Regions from separate parts of the Homo sapiens genome. Here region 2 is linked to region 1. Evidence: fine-mapped expression QTL. A gene starts in region 1. The other region holds a variant in brackets. All regions are shown on one strand. Distances are between the middles of the regions. Region 1 holds the start of RCL1 (RNA terminal phosphate cyclase like 1). Region 2 overlaps RCL1 (RNA terminal phosphate cyclase like 1).

Evidence for each region. PIP is the estimated chance that this variant, and not a neighbour inherited with it, causes the effect.
Region 2: its variant is fine-mapped to the expression of RCL1 in Th1/17 cells (Schmiedel 2018, PIP 0.95).

Annotation. Positions count from the first base shown.
Region 1 is chr9:4,787,978-4,796,097 of GRCh38, forward strand. It overlaps RCL1 (RNA terminal phosphate cyclase like 1), which reads left to right and starts at 4,967. Exons shown (of 9, transcript NM_005772.5): 1 at 4,967-5,250. The coding sequence starts at 5,115. RefSeq lists enhancers at 4,224-4,273, 5,094-5,143, 5,218-5,717 and a silencer at 4,654-5,013.
Region 2 is chr9:4,834,937-4,843,056 of GRCh38, forward strand. It overlaps RCL1 (RNA terminal phosphate cyclase like 1), which reads left to right. Exons shown (of 9, transcript NM_005772.5): 6 at 6,296-6,421. Among named protein-coding and RNA genes, the nearest start is that of MIR101-2, 11 kb to the right of the region's middle. RefSeq lists a silencer at 7,373-7,667. The variant T/C (reference allele first, on the strand shown) is at 4,575.

The DNA.
Region 1 (8,120 bases):
ACTTCAAGCCAATGTTTCTGATGAATACTGATCCAAAAATTCTCAATGAAACTGAATTCAACAACACATTAAAAAGATCATTCATCATGACCAAGTGTGATTCATCCCAGGGATGCAAGGGTGGTTCAACATATGCAAATTAAGTAATGTAATACATCATAGCAAGAGAATGAAGGACAAAAATGATCAAATGATCATTTCAATTGATGCTGAAAAAGCACTTGATAAAATCCAGTATCGCTTCCTCATAAAAGCCCTAACAATACTGAGTATAGAAAGACATCCCTCAATATAATAAAAGCCACATATGATATACCCACAGCTAATATCATACTGAATGGGGAAAAACTGAAAGCCTTTCATCTTTTTTTTTTTTTTTGAGACACAGTCTTGCTCTGTCACCTAGCCTGGAGTACAGTGGTGCGATCTCAGCTCGCTGCAACCTCTGCCTCCCAGATGCAAACAATTCTCATGTCTCAGCCTCACCAGTAGCTGGGATTACAGGTGCATGCTACCACACCCAAATGGAGTTTCACCGTGTTGGCCAAGCTGGTCTCAAACTCCTAGCCTTAGGTGATCTGCCCGCCTTAGCCTCCCAAAGTGCTAGGATTACAAGTGTGAGCCACCACACTGGCCACCTTTCTTCTTTGATCAGAACATGACAAGGATTCCCACTTTCACCACTCTTATTCAACATAGTACTGGAAGTTTGCAGCTACAGCAATTGGACAAGCGAAAGAAATAAAGGGGATTCAAATAGGAAATGAAGAAATTTAATTACCCTTGGGTGTGGGTGGCTCATGCCTGTAATCTCGGAACTTTGGGAGGCCGAGGCAGGCAGATTGCTTTGAGACAAGCATGGGCAACACAGTGAAATATCATCTCTACAAAAAAATTAAAAAATTAGCTGAGTGTGATGGAGCATGCCTGTACATGCCTGTAGTCCCAGCTACCAGGGAGGCTGAAGTGGGAGGATCACTTGGGCCTGGGGCGTTGAGGCTTCAGTGAGCCATGATCATGCCACTGCACTCCAGCCTGGGTGACCGAGTGAGATCCTGTCTCAAAAAAAAAAAAAAAAAAAAAGGCGGGGGGAAAGAAAAAAGAAAGAAAGAAAAGAAAGAAAAGGAAGGAAGGAAGGAAGGACGGGAGGGAGGGAGGGGAAAGAAAGAAGAAAAAATTTTCCTTGTTTTTAGATGATATAATTTTATATTTAGAAAAACCCAAAGTCCACCAAATAAATATTAGAACTAATAAACAAATTCAGTAAATTTGCAGGATACAAAATTAACACACAAAAATCAGTAGTATTTCTCTATGCCAACAATGAACAATCCAAAAAAGAAATCAAGAAAGTGATCCCATTTACAATAGCTAAAAAGAAAATAAAATACCTAGAAATGAACTTAAGAAGTGAAAGATCTCTACAATGATAACTATAAAATATTGATGTAAGATTTTGAAGAGGCCACAAAAAATAGTAAGGTATTTTATGTTGACAGGTTGGAAGAATCAACATTGGTAAAATATCCATACTACCCAAAGCAGTCTCTATTAAAATACCAATAATATTCTTCACAGATATAGAAAAAAAATCCTAAAATTTATATAAAACCACAAAAGACCCAGAATAGCCAAAGCTATCCTAAGAAAAAGAACAAAACTGGAGGAATCACATTACCTGATTTCAAATTATACTACAATTAGCTGGATGTGTTGGTGCATGCCTGTAATCTCAGCTACTCAGAAGGCTGAAACATGAGAATCGCTTGAACGTAGGAGGTGGAGGTTGCAGTGAGCTGAGATCATGCCACTGCACTCCAGCCTGGGTGACAGAGTGAGACTCTGTCTCAAAAAAAAAAAAAAAAAAAAAGAAAAATTAAAAAAAAATACTATAGTAACCAAAATGGCATGGTACTCGCATAAAAACAGACAAATGGACCAGTGGAACAGAATAGAGAACCCAAAAACAAATCTATAACCCTACAGTGAACTCATTTTCAATAAAGGTGCCAATAACATACACTGGGGAAAAAACAATCTCTTCAATAAATGGTGCTGGGAGACCTGGATATCCATATGCAGAAGAGTAAAACTAGACTGCTTTCTCTTGCCGTGTACAAAAACCAAATCAAAATGGATTAAAGACTTATATCTAAGACCTCAAACTATGAAATGGCTACAGAAAATATTGGGGAAAATCTCTAGGACATTGGTTAGGCAAAAATTTCTTGATTAATAACCCACAAGCATACGCAACCAAAGCAAAAATGGGATCATATCAAGTTAAAAAGCTTCTGCACAGCAAAGGAAACAATCAACAAACTGAAGAGACAACCCAAAGAGTGAGAAAACATATCTGCAAACTACTCATTTTGAGATATCATCTCATCCCAGTTAAGATGGCTTATATTCAAAAGACAGGCGATAACAAATACTGGTGAGGATGTGGAGAAAATGGAACCCTTGTACACTGTTGGTGGGAATGTAAATTCGTGCAACCACTATGGAGAACAGTTTGGAGGTGCCTCAAAAAACTAAAAATAGAGCTACCATATGATTCAGCAATCCCACTGCTGCGTGTATACCCAAAAGAAAGGAAATCAGCATATCAAAGAAATATCTGCACTCCCATGTTTGTTGCAGCACTCTTCACAATAGCTAAAATTTGAAAACAGTCAAAGTGTCCATCAACAGATGAATGGATAAAGAAAATGTGATACATATACACAATATAGTATTATTCAGCCATAAAAAAGAATGAAATCCTGTCATTTGCAACAACATGGATGAAACTGGAGATCATTATGTTAAGTGAAATAAGCCAGGCACAGAAAGAAAAACATCACATGTTCTCACCTATTTGTGGGATCAAACAATCAAAACAATTTAACTCATGGAAATAGAGAGTAGAAGGATGGTTACTAGAGACTGGAAAACATAGAGGGGGTGGGGATGTTGGGGGGCAGGTGGGGATAATAAATGTGTACAAAAATTAGAAAGAATAAGATCTACTATTTGATAGCACAACAAGGTGTCTGTAGTCAACAATAATTTAATTTTCATTTAAAAATAACTAAAACAGTATAATTGTTTTGTTTGTATAATAACACAAAGAATAAAATGCATGAGGGGATGAGTACCCTATCCTTCAGGATGTGATTATCACACATTGCATGCCTGTATCAAAACTTCTCCCGTACCTCATATATACATGTACCATCTACCTACAAAAATTAAAAATTAAAAAAATTATATGGAACCACAAAAGACCCAGAATAGCCAAACCTGTCCTAAGCAAAAAGAACAAAACTGGAGGAATCACATTACCTGACTTCAAATTATACTACAGAGCTAGAGTAAACAAAATGGCATGGTACTGGCATAAAAACAGACACATAGATCAGTAGAACAGAGCGGAGAACGCAGAGATAAATCCACACAGCTACGGTAAACTCATTTTCGACAAAGTTGCCAAGAACATACTCTGGGGAAAGGACAGTCTCTTCAATAAATGATGCTGAGAAAATTGGATATCCATATGCAAAAGAGTGAAACTAGATCTCTATCTCTTGCCATTTACAAAAATCAAAGAAAAATGGATTAAAGGCTGGGAGTGGTGGCTCACACTTGTGAGGCCAAGGTGGGCCAATCGCTTGAGGTTAGAAGTTTGAGACCAGCCTGGGTAACATGGCAAAAACCCATGTCTATACAAAATACAAAAATTAGCTGAGCATGGTGGTGCACACCTGTAGTTCCAGCTAATGGGGAGGCTGAGGTTGGAGGATTACTAGAACTCGGGAAGTTGAGGCTGCAGTGAGTCATGAGCATGCCACTCCACTCCACTTTATAACACACTGTTGTCTACATAAGGCTAGCTACATCCCTTAATCTTAAACTCCCACCGCTTTCAGACACTATCATACCCCGCCCCCCTTCCCCCCGCGAACCCCCGTGCATTCTGGGACTCATGGTTTGGTGAGTGTTGTCCAGGAATGGCTACAAACCCACATTACTATGATATCGGACTTCTACTTGTGTAGTCATTTGTTAGTTAACTGTACATTTTGGAAGGTTTTTGAGTAGAGAAGTGAAATAATCCAACGTTTGGGAAGATTTTCTTGTGCAGGATTGGAGGAGGACGGGAAAGAGGGAAAAAGCATTGCGCGCGTGTGTGTGTGTGAAGTTATTACAACTATCTATCTTGAAGCATGCGAGGTAGGAGGGCCTGAATTGCCATGAAACGCAATGACGATAAACGAAGGGACCCGTGAGAAAGGGGCAAAGAGGTGTCTCAATAAAATAAGCAACGGCCTGCTGTGGGAGGATTCGGGTCTCAGTATAGGCTGCCACTGTCAGCTTTGCAATATTCCTCGAGCCTTTATCCATGAGTAGGACAGGATGGCTCTACCTTGCAGGGTTACAGCATGGAGCTGCGGGACTGCGCCGGCAGTGCGCTGAGCGGCATCCCTGCGATAGGGTGAGTGCACCAACCCTTGTTGTCTCTCTTAGTAAGAAAGAGGAGGGGTAGATAATAGCATCTTCACCCCAGTAGTTGCCGTAAGTAGTAATGCTAAGAATCCGGCACGTCGTAGGCATCAATCTCAGTCCGCCATCTCCCCTTGCTACCACGCCAGGAGGTACACAGAGGAGACTGCCCCGACTGGCAACTCCCGCGCCGGGGTTCCCTGGCCATCCTCCCGCGTTCCCTCCAGCCGCGCGCTGTTGCCAGGGCCCGGGCACCGCCCAGCTCCACTACGGACCAATGGCAGCGCGGCTTGGGCACCGCCCAGCTTCAGCGGAAGCCAATGGAGGCGCGGCGCGGGCACCGCCCTGATCCGGCGCGGGCCAATAGCGGCGTGGCCCGAAGCGGGGGCCGCCCCGGTCGGGCGGGGAGGCGGGGAGGTGGCCACTGGCTCCGCCCCGCTCCCCTCTGACCCGGTGTCTAGTCTCTCCGTCTTCCTGTTCCAAACCACGTGGACGCGTCTGGGCTGCTGGAGGCAGCCCGAGCCGCCGCCGTCGGTGTCGCCGCCACCACCACCATCGGAGTCACGAGTCCCGCGTCTGTCCGAAGTCGCCGCTCTCGGGCTGCTCACGTCTCTTCGGAGAGCGCGCACATGGCGACTCAGGCGCACTCCCTCAGCTACGCAGGGTGCAACTTCTTGCGCCAACGTCTGGTCCTGTCTACCCTGAGCGGGCGCCCCGTCAAAATCCGAAAGATTCGGGCCAGAGACGACAACCCGGGCCTCCGAGGTAACTTGGTGTGGGCGGCGCGCGGCGTGGGCGCGGGGGCTGAGGGGAGACCGAGCTGATGCCGTGGGGGCCCGCGCGGTGTTGGTTGGGCGGCTCGGCGTCCGGCGAGCGCGTCGGGGAGGGCAGGTGGCGCGTCGCCTCCAAAGCCGGAGGGGCAGGCACAGTGGGGGAGGCGGGGTCGGGGCCCGAGGGGAGCGCTCAGCTGCAAGCTGCGCTCGGCGTCTCCGGGGCGCTGGTAGTAAACAGCTGCACGTTTTCCAGCTTTACGTGTAGCAACAAATCCCTGGCGTCGCCCCTTCGCGTCCCTTCGGCCCCTCTTGCCCTCGCCATAAACCTCTCAAAGGAGAAAAACAGTTTGTTGGACCGAAATATGGTGAATGAGCCGGGGGAGAGACATTGGGAGAGAAAAGTACCTTGGGTTGGTTCTCTGCCCTGTCTCAAAGCAGTTCTCAGAAGCAGCTGCCCCCTTGGACACCGGCTGTTCCTGTCGCCATGATTTCTCGGCTGCCCTCACACTTGTCCTTGGGTGTGGATAAAGAAATTTTTAAAATTCTGTGTTTGTTTTCAGCCGTGACTGTGATTGATGTGCGCAGGACAGGAGCTTTGAGATAGACTTTTAACAGTCATGGGCCTAATTGCCTTGACTTTAGAAAAGGGGTCGGTGACAATCGCTAAACTGCAGGCTTCCAAGCTCACTTCTTGCTCTGCAATGGTAGGTTAAAAAGAAATAGGCCCATTTAAACCCACATCTCATTAAATGGCGCCGGTTTTCAACTGGCCTTGGTTTACACCTGGCCCCCTGGCATGAGATACATGCATTTAAAAGCTTCTGACTGGTGGTTATCCCAAGTTGGGCGAGTCAGTAGTCAGGTGAAAAAGGAAAAAACCTGTCTGTAAATTGAAAAAGAGTGTTTGTGGTTGGTCCTGGAAGCTTCCTGAGCGGCGCTGATGTGTTTCATTTTGCACTGGCTCTTGTTTTATCTGTCTGAATGCATTTTTTGGATAGTTAGATCTCTGCCTCTCTTGGGTGGTGATTGGCTGCACATAAAGGGCAGAAGATGCCATGCTATTGACGGAGATAGGTTAGGAAGGAAAGAAGCAGAATATCCCAGGTACAGTGGTGAGAAACCTAGTGATGGTAGGAAAAACTTGTGTTGGTGGTTCCTGTCCTCTCTCTACTGCTCAAAAACACTGAGAAAGTTAGGGAGAGACCACAAATGGTTTATGCCACGACTTTTCCGTCAACAAGTGTTCCACTTAGTTTGACCCTTGGGCAAAGTGTTTGCTTGATTGCTGTGTGGCATTCTCAGCCAGCTCTCCATCCACTTTACCCTCAGGTTAGCTCAGAGAACTTGCCACTAGCTGGATATGGTAAGAAGATGGACTTCTACTTTGTATAAAAGTAGGCATAACTTTTTTTTTTTTTTCCAGAGAAATGGAAGTATAGCCTGGAAACCTGGGTTCTCTAAAATGAATCTAGTTCTATTTAGAGTTTTTCTATTGACAGGTGGCCTCCAATTTAATATTTAATGTTCCAAAGTATGCTTCTCCTTCTCCCCCTCCACTGTATGTGAGCATCTCTTCAAAGCATCTCACACATATGAGCTCCCGTTTCTTCCAAGAACAGGGCTTGGCCACTTGGCACTTTCTTGAAAGGGTGTCAGACGCTGATACCTGAGGGAGGTAGAACTGCTTGGCAGGTGTGCTGGTATTTTATGGGGAACATTACTGTAGAGCATTATTTGCCTTACCCCGTTCATATACCAGGGGAAGAAAGAGACTCCTAGTTATTTGTACATCCTTGCGCTGGCTTCAGGGCCTCAGAAACCTTGTAGATGTTTGTCTGCTTAATTTCTTTCTTTTTTTTTGAGACAGAGTCTTACTCTGTCTCCCAGGCTGGAGTGCCGTGGTGCGATCTCGGCTCACTGCAACCTCCGCCTCCTGGGTTCCTGCAATTCTCCTGCCTCAGCCTCCCTCGTAGCTGGGATTACAGGTGCCTGCCACCATGCCCAGCTAATTTTTAGTAGAGTATTTTTAGTAGAGATGGGGTTTCACCATGTTGGCCAGGCTGTATGAAACTGCTGACCTCAGGTGATCCGCCTGCCTTGGCCTCCCAGAGTGCTGGGATTACAGGTGTGAGCCGCTGCGCCCAGCCTGTCTGCTTAATTTCTTACAGAGGGAACAGAGAGATAGATATGCATTTGCAGATATACATGTATATGTGTATATGTATACACATACATGTAAGTGTATATACATATACGTGCACGCATAAATAGATGTAGTCCCTGACACATGATTTCTGGTCATAATCAAGGGAGTCCTTGGTAGCTTGATTGAAGATGTAGCCGGAAGCCTATGTTGCCCGTCATCTGTCCCTTTCTGACTTTTCCTAACTCAGATTCTCAGAGTTGGAAAAAACTCAGAGCATATCCAATAAAATCTTCAGTTCTAATGCAAGAATCACATCTCTTCAAGGTGCTTGCTTAAAACATCCCTCATGGTGTGGGCTTTGGAGGGTAGGGATAGTATGGGAGGCTTTCGGCCTCAGGAACATTTATTTAGAAAGTGTTTATTGAGCCACAGTATGTGCAAGGCTTTGTATGGGGGTGAGTGTAATATATGTGAGAAGCTGGTTGCCCCTGTTCTCATGGAGCTTGTCATGTAAGTAGGATGTTACTAAGTTTGAGTAACTTGAAGTAGGAAGGATTGAGTATTGTACAGGGGCTCAGTGGAGTTCAGAGCAGACACTTCCCTGAAAGTTACGAAGGAAGGCAGGTTTTCTGGACCTGATCTGGACAGATAGGATTGAGATGGTGGCTGCGGAAATCATTGTTTGCAAAATAAACAGTTCTTTTTTTAAAGAAATT
Region 2 (8,120 bases), 47 kb after region 1:
TGTGTGACTCTAAAGTACAGGCATTTAATTTTTACTTTTGCCTATAGAAAGGAGCCTTGAAGAACAGAGGATTGCAAAGTAGAGCAAGAAAGGAGGAGGGCTTCAGGCAGAAAAGTGGGCCTGAGCAGAGGTGGCAGTGCACAGTGGTTCTAGGGAGTGGCAAGTAATGAAGTGTGGCCAGATTTCAGGTTGGTCTATGGCATTTGATGGTAGAATGGGGCATGAAGACAGGCAGGGGCCAGTGAAGAGCTGAAGGTGGCTGGAATCAGATACTATGCAGAACGCAAAGAAAGGAGGGTGGAACCCTGTGAGGCCACCAAAACTTGAAAGCAAGAGTTAAGTAAGGAGGGAAGTAAGAGTGGGGAAGAGAATAAACAAAACATAGCTTCCTGGAAGCTCAGGTCAGCACTTTAAAAGGCCCTGAGGAGTTAGCATTGGGGTGGGGGAAAAGCTGAGGGACTCAGCAGCAGGCTGTCACTGATGCCCTGGGGAAGAGTGCTGGATCCCTATCCCAAGGGACTAATTCTGGGTTGTGGAGTGAAGGGGAGGGAAACAGCGGCTTGTGGGGACCACTCTTTACAGAACCTTGACAGGAAAGAGAAGGAGAAGGAAGGATGAGGGAGTAACTTGATGAAGCGAGAGTCAGGGAGACTCCCTCCCTTTTACAAAAAGATTGGTAAGGATTTGAGTGTTTTTGTAGGTTGTTAATGTAGATGAAGCAAAGTAATGAGCTGATTAAAAGCCCAGGTGCTGGAGTCAGAAAGACGTGGGTGCCGACGCCGGCTGCGCCACTTACCAATGGAAGCATTTGGCCGTAAGCCTTGGTTGCCCGTATATCTTTAGTCCTGTTATAACTGCTGTGCGAGACTGTCATGAAGGTAAAATGAGATCGTAGTTGCACAGTAGGAGGCACTGGTGTGTAAGTAGCATTGGGTAAATGGTTACTACTATTCTTTTTATTCTTACTTGAGAGGGGATGGATTCAAGGCCACAGGCATACGGTAAGGGTGGCTCCAGGTAGAGCTGTGTGGAGGTGAGTGGAAGGGGGTTGGGATGAGTTTTCAGTTGTTACCGAGTTAGGATGGGATTGAGGGTAAGGGGATGGGCGGGGTAGGATAAGAGAGTGTGACAAGGATGGTAAAGATGTGCCTTCACAGGGGAGCATCATAACTGAAGATAAGAAAAAGGCTGTGTTCCAGCAGTAAGGTCCTTGCTGAAGGTGTAATGTTAACACAGTGCCAGCTGCATGGCCATGTGGCTATATCCAGTGGCAGTTGGCAGCCTAGAGGGAGGAGTAGAGAACGTGGGAGGACCAATTTCATCCAAGGTTGGATGCAGGTTGGCAAGGTGGGTGGGTCCTACAGGAGGACAGTTGGAGGGTGGGTGCTGGAGCATTGGGAAGTACATTCCTCACTGAGGATTGTCACAGGGGCTCACCAGCCTGGACAAAGCAGGTCAAGGGATGAGAAACTTTAACAGGCTTAAAGATCAGATCTAGTGGAAATAGATACATGTACTGTGTAGGACAAGAGATTGTGTTTAGGGAGTTTTGTTTTGGGATTTCAGATATTAAAAGTGGTAAAATTCTAGGTGCTGACAGGATCTGGGTGGGAGCAGGTGTTGGAGGCCGTAGAGCAAGACAGGCTGTGGGATGACTTTCCTGGCGGGAGTGTGACAAGGAGGGCAGACCAGAAAGCCTGCTTGTCAGGGCGGGGGTGGGTGCTTAAGGTCGGGTTTTGTGTTCTCAGGAGGTTTGGCAATGGTATTACTTGGAGGAAGAAAGGTGTAGCGTGGACTGTCTTTTCAGAGGCCTCGAATAGCTTGAACAGTAAGTGGTGAAGGGCAGGGAGTAGGGTGGGCTGCAGAGCCATGTGCAGAGAGAGTGCTGGTTAAGATAGAAGCTCAAACTTGGGTTGCTGCCTGAAGTTCTTTTTAAGGATCATCAAAACCACAGGAATACATAATAACAAAGCCTTCCTGGGTTATGGTCTGTTCTCTGCATGGCTGTCCCCCAGCCCATGTAAGCGCCCAGCCTTGTGTGTACCAGGAGAGAACAGGCAAAAGGAGAAATGGTTCCTTTCCTAGGAGCCCCCAGGTTGATGCATAGTTACATTGCCCAGGTGACTTTCTAAGGTGATATTCAACTCTAGTATCCAAATCCGAGGAGCTGGAATAAGGTTAATTAGGTTACAAAGAAATGGAAATGCAATGTAACTAGGTGTGTGTTTTTGAAACCAAATGTGCCTTTTCTACTTGAATTCATTCTTATTAACAGATGCATTGTATTCCACCATATATAGAACCCAAAATCAAATCCTGTTGATGGCCATTGAGTTGTTTTTTGCTTTTCACTGTTGCCAAATACACTGCGGTTAATGGCTTTAACCACAACATTTTTGGCAATGGTGAAAAAAAGTGTAATAAGTGTATAGGAATACACTTTCCAATACATTCCAATAAGTGTACAGGAATACACTTTCAGTACTATTTTGGGTTTGTCTGGGGGGTAGTTGTTTTTTTTCCTCCTTATTTGAGATGTGTTTCCTTAATGCTGTATTGGCGGCCGTGAACTTTGTTTGGAATCCAGTCTCTGTAGTCTGGAAATGTGATTTCTGGCAGTGTGCTCTGTTTTGACACAATCTTGTCATAACAACATGGGTTTCATCACAGTGGGGTCCCCCTTGTTCTCTCTGGGTGTGCAGATGGTCGTGTCCTTTGATGATGATGCTGGGAAATGGGGAAGGGCTTTCCAGGGGAGAACATAAAAGTTAAAAGAGCTGTAGTGCCGGGCACCTTGGGTGTAACTATGTTCCTCCCTGGCTTCTCCCTCTAATGTTCTTGGAACCTTCCCTGTGTAGAATCTGAGCCAGGAAGAGACTTGTGAGGTCCCAAGTTCCTCCCTCCCTGGAGGCAGGGGATAGGACATGGAAATCATCCCCAATATATCTCTGACTGGTTGAGGCTTCCTCCTGGCTCCCCAGGAGAGTTGACACAGTGCCCTTTCTCAGATCCCTGTCTGTTAACCAAACATTTCAGCCACTGCTCTGCAGAGCTGCCCATTTCACAAACACCTCAAAGGAATGTTGGTTTGAATGGAGATCGCCCTCTTCTCCAGTTTTGGAGCCTGGGAAAAAAGAGCTGCCTTTGGAAAAAGCTTGAGTTGGTTTTGTGGTTTTTTTCCTTGCAAGGCTGGTTGACTACTGGACTAAGCTTGGAGGTTGTATTTCCCATGGGAGGGCTCAGACTGGGAGAAAGAGGCCCACTCTCTTGTGTGCATTTGTGGTTTTAACTGAATTACTTCCAAAGTGCATCTTTTCCCTCTTGCGTTCTACAAGATGACCTACCAGCCAGGGCCCAGAGGGAGCTGGTGTTGGTTCCTGCCAGCAGCTGTGACTACACAGTAGTTACCTTTTACTTAATGCCACCCACTCTTTCTCACCCCTGCCTTATGTGGGGCGTAAGAGAAAGGAACATTCTGTTTTAGTTTTGCAGTGCTGTCCTAGGAGCTCATGATTTGGTACATGAGAATTAAGTGAAAAAGCTGGCAGTAAAGGGGGATAAGTTGGAATTCGTGGGATAATCTAGTTTCTTTTCCTTGACTGTAGGAAAGGTACTTTGAGAATCAAGCTCTCTCTCCACCTACTGTAACATACACACACACACCCCTCTTAGCTTTCTCTGACATGGAACATTGGGGAAGGGGAAGAGTGGGAGTCCCATATGGACTGTAGCTATGGACTTGTACATTGGTATTGGTTCTTAATATGGTTTTCATAAATGGGCTTTAGGAGGTTCATAAACCTGAAAAATTTTCTGCAAGATTGTGAGTATATATGTTTCTCAGGAGAGGGTCCATAGCTTTCATCAGATTCTCAGAGAGTTCTCTGATTCTTGAAAGAATAAGAACCTCTGCTTGGGATTTGAATCTTGGATAAGTAATAAAGAAAAGCAATAGCTGACATTTGTTGGGCTCCTACTACACACTAGGCATTAAGAGCTTTACATGCATTTTATTTCATTTGTGCCTCCAAACTCTGTGAGGAAAGTGTTATGATTATCCTTCTTTTACTGATTAGGAAATGACAGCACAGAGAAGTTACCACAATTAACCTGGAGTGATGCAGCTTGCTGGAGCTTGGACTTGAACGGAGATAATCTGATTCTAGAACTTGGGGGCTGTTAGCCATTCCTTAGTAGGACATCCATGCCAAGCCAGATGGTTCTAAGCAACTGGCTTTAAAGTTCCTTTGCCTTCTTCATTTCATTGCCTGAGTTCTAGTATAGGATTCTGTAGGCCCTGAATTCGTACTGTTTGTTAACCTTCGTGTTTTTGTATTGGGATGGGTGAGAGGAGGAAGATGCTTTTTGGGAGTCAGATCTGTTTAATTTTGAGCAAGTGTCTTAGTTTTTTTGTCTTAGTTGTCTTTAATGTAAGTCCTAGAACTCGGAGCCATGGCCCTCAACACAGGGTTACTGTGAGCATAAAGTAAGGTGATAATAGATGTGAAAGAACTTTGGGAGCCGTGAGCTCTGTGGGATTATGTGCTAGGATGGTGACATCTCTTGTGCTTTCC[T/C]GGGGACAGTGGGCAGCCTCAGACCTCAGAAGGACAGCACCTGCTTGGTCCAAAGGGTATGAGATTCAGGACTGTTTGTCTAAGCTGTCTGTGGTCAAAAGTACATTCTGGACTGAAGAGATGGTGATGTAACTGGGCTGTGTGTGTATTGAAAAATCCCTCTTTGCTCTTTCCTCATTTCAGGTTTGTCCTTTGAGTCAAGTTAAATATTTATTGAGCATTTCTGAGTACAAAAGTGGTGTATTGGAGAGTTGGGAGGGATTACAGAGGTAAAGCCCTTGCCCTTATAGAGTGTGTGGTCTCATTGAAGAGCAAGAACAAAATGTGCATATGTGAAGAGAGATGTATGGTAAGTTCAAGTGGAGCTAACACTTGGGTGCCGGCTGGAGGGTTTCAGGAGAGAGATTGGGACCTCGGGCTGGGAGAATGGGGCAAAGCAGCTCAGGTTGAGGAATTTGGTCAGTTTGGATGGGTGGAAGGAGTTGATGGTGCAGAGCTGAAGATGGACACAACTGAGCAGGCTGGGGGCTCTAACAACAAGATATGGGAGGACCAGGAGCCACCGAGAGACTGTCACCAGCATGAGGAAGATTGGTCTTTTAGTATGAAGTTCAGGATGGGTCAAAAAAGGGAGCTAGATACCAGATCAGGTCATGTATCGTCTCTGAGCACTTTGTTTCTGCAGTTCAGATGAAAATTAAATATGTTATTGTCAGCAGTTCTTGAACATTGGGCTGGATTGGGCAGATTATATACCTCGTTCTACCTGTTGGACTTGTCACGTGGGGTTTGTATCAGGGTAGTGGGAAGGTCACATGTTATTTCTCCATTTTTTTAGTTCCAAATATATAGCCATCTCTTGACCATACATTGCACATTGAAGTGCTCAATACATACTTACTTTTTCTTTGACATGTGTGGTTGGGGAATGCCAGCTTCTGTTATAAAGTCTAGTTTTAGGCAATAATTTCCATTTCCTCAAGCACCAATCTTTTCACTTGAGTTACTAATATCTTCCTCCTTTCTTTTCTGGGGTGCCCTATTGTAGGAGTGCTAATTATCAATATTTTAACCATAAGGTAGCAGGTGTGAGGAGGCTGTGTTATCCACAAGTGGAGTAATTAATTCTTAAATAGTAGAAAATAGGCCCTGTAAATGAGAAAAACCTTTTTATATATTTATAAATAGCAGCAACCATGTTCTTTCACTGAACTTTTTCTGCTTCTCCCATCAGCATACCAGGAGTCAGATTGGGATCGCCCAGGTCCTGTGTGGTGTCTGTTCTGGGCTTAGGTTCTTAAGAGAGAGACTCATTGGCTACAGCAGTGGGAATGGACAGAGAATAGAAAGTGTTCTTAGGTGTTGTGCTTCAGAGGGAGCCTGGATCATGACCCGCAGAGAGGCAGGTGTCTTTACACCTTCCAAAATTGACTTGAACCATTTCTAGGGGAAGCGTGTGGGTAGGAAGTCAGGGGGTGGGGTTGAGGACCTCCAGCTTTATACTTTCCACTGTCTCTATTGTTTGGGTGTTTTTGCCATGACCTTTTATAATAATGAAAAAAATTTAATTATGGTACTAATTCAGTAAATTCAGTTGGAAAACAATAGATTTGGAAGTCCCAGTTTGTTACTACAGTTCCACAAATACTTGCCAGCTTTATAACTGATTTTTCTCTGTCCTGGAATTCAAGCAGAATGACATCCTTAACTCCAGGCTGCAGGTACTCTGTACGTGTGTCACCTCAGATGGCGAACCGGATTGTGGATTCTGCAAGGAGCATCCTCAACAAGTTCATACCTGATATCTATATTTACACAGATCACATGAAAGGAGTCAACTCTGGGAAGTAAGTATCTGTGTTTTTGAAGTCTGTTTCTGCAGCTTTTTCACATGCCTGTTCTAGTTGAAGTTAAAACTGCCAGCTCTGAGGTTGCGCAGCCAGAGGAAGAACAATTTCAGAATTAATTTCTTTCTGCCTTATTGCCGTTGTCACCAACAGGCATTTCTTGAGTGCCTGTCACATGGAAAGCATCCCAGTGGCTAGAGCTGGAAGCTAAGGGTCTGGTTCCTAGCCTTGGGGAATTAAAACCTTTATCTATTAATACACAATGCTTTAGGCTTTAAATTCCATCTGCACTCTGTTCCAACAAAAAAATTAAAGTGGACAGGTTCTTCCACCCTGAGTAAATAACAGTATAGGGTTAAAATCTTTTGTTATCTAAGTGTAAGTCAGCATCTCTCTTCATCAGTGGAAACAACATATTTACATCCAGAGAAAGTTGTTATTGCAGACGTGAATTTGGTTTAGTGAAAGCCTTTGCTTTGCTAAAAAATAAAAATTTTAAAAATTAGAAAAAAATTCTAAGTAAGGAAAATAAGTTCTTAAAAAATGATGCTCTATGTAATGAAGATACCTGTTTTAGGCTTTGCTTGTGTATTTAGCAACTAGGAAGTTAGAGAAGCAATTAAAGCCACTTTCTTAAAATAGGAAAGTGTTAAACATACAGAAAAGATCAAAGAATAGTACAGTGAACACGGAGATATACTCCTGCTGCCTATAGTTAACGATAAATATTTTGCCAAATTTGCTTCACTTGTTTGTGGGTTTTGTTTGTTTTTGTTTTTTACTGAATCATTTCAGTGTGAATGGGCATCATTTCACTTCACATCTGAGGCTTTGCAGGTTGTGTCTCCTAAAAATAAGAATATTAGAGTCTGGGGTTAACTGTTGTAGGTTAAGAAGTCAACTTCTTCTTAAGTGATGCCACAGCTGATCCTTTTTCACAGCTGTTTCACCTGTGGTTTCTTTTAATTTCAGCAAAAAGAGGAAAAGAGAGTAAAGGAGGGGGGTGAGTGTTTTATACAACCTTTGACCTTTATAAGGCCCAATGGAAAGATGAAGGTAGTTTTAGAAATACAGTGGAGGCTCATAGTCCAAAGCAACAAAGCTGGTGGCGTCATAACGCTGGGGTTGGGAAAGGATTTGTGGGCAAAGCTGGACTTTCTGGCTTGGAAAAGTCAATGATGTTCCTAAACCTTTGGTTTATATTCTAGTAACAACAGTATTTTCCTCATTTATGCATTGAGGGTGATGATGCCTATGTTTTGGGGTTATTGTAAAGATCACACATATAAGCCATTAATACCTTGCTTGTCACATGGTAAGTCCTACAGAAATGGTAGCTCCTGATGCTGTTCTTTCCTTTACTCTCCCTTGTTGGCCACAGGTCTGGAATTATGTGTCAGCTATTTTCTGGAGAAAGGGGATTTCCGAGGGATGGGGGAGGACAGATAGCAGCAGAAGCTGTCTAAATGGCTTCATCTCGATAGTCCCTTCTCTGCTTTGCCTCTCGCTTTATCAGAAAGTGTCCTGGCATGAAGCAGAGCAGGCCTGACAGCCATCCTGCCACCAGCTTATAGTGTGGCTTTTTGTTATACCACTGACTCAGCTGACCCTAGAGTGTGGTCAAGTCCATACTTACTAATGGTGAGTAGAAGCCTTACACGTAGATAAAGACATGGACATGATGTAGACTGTGGGCCAT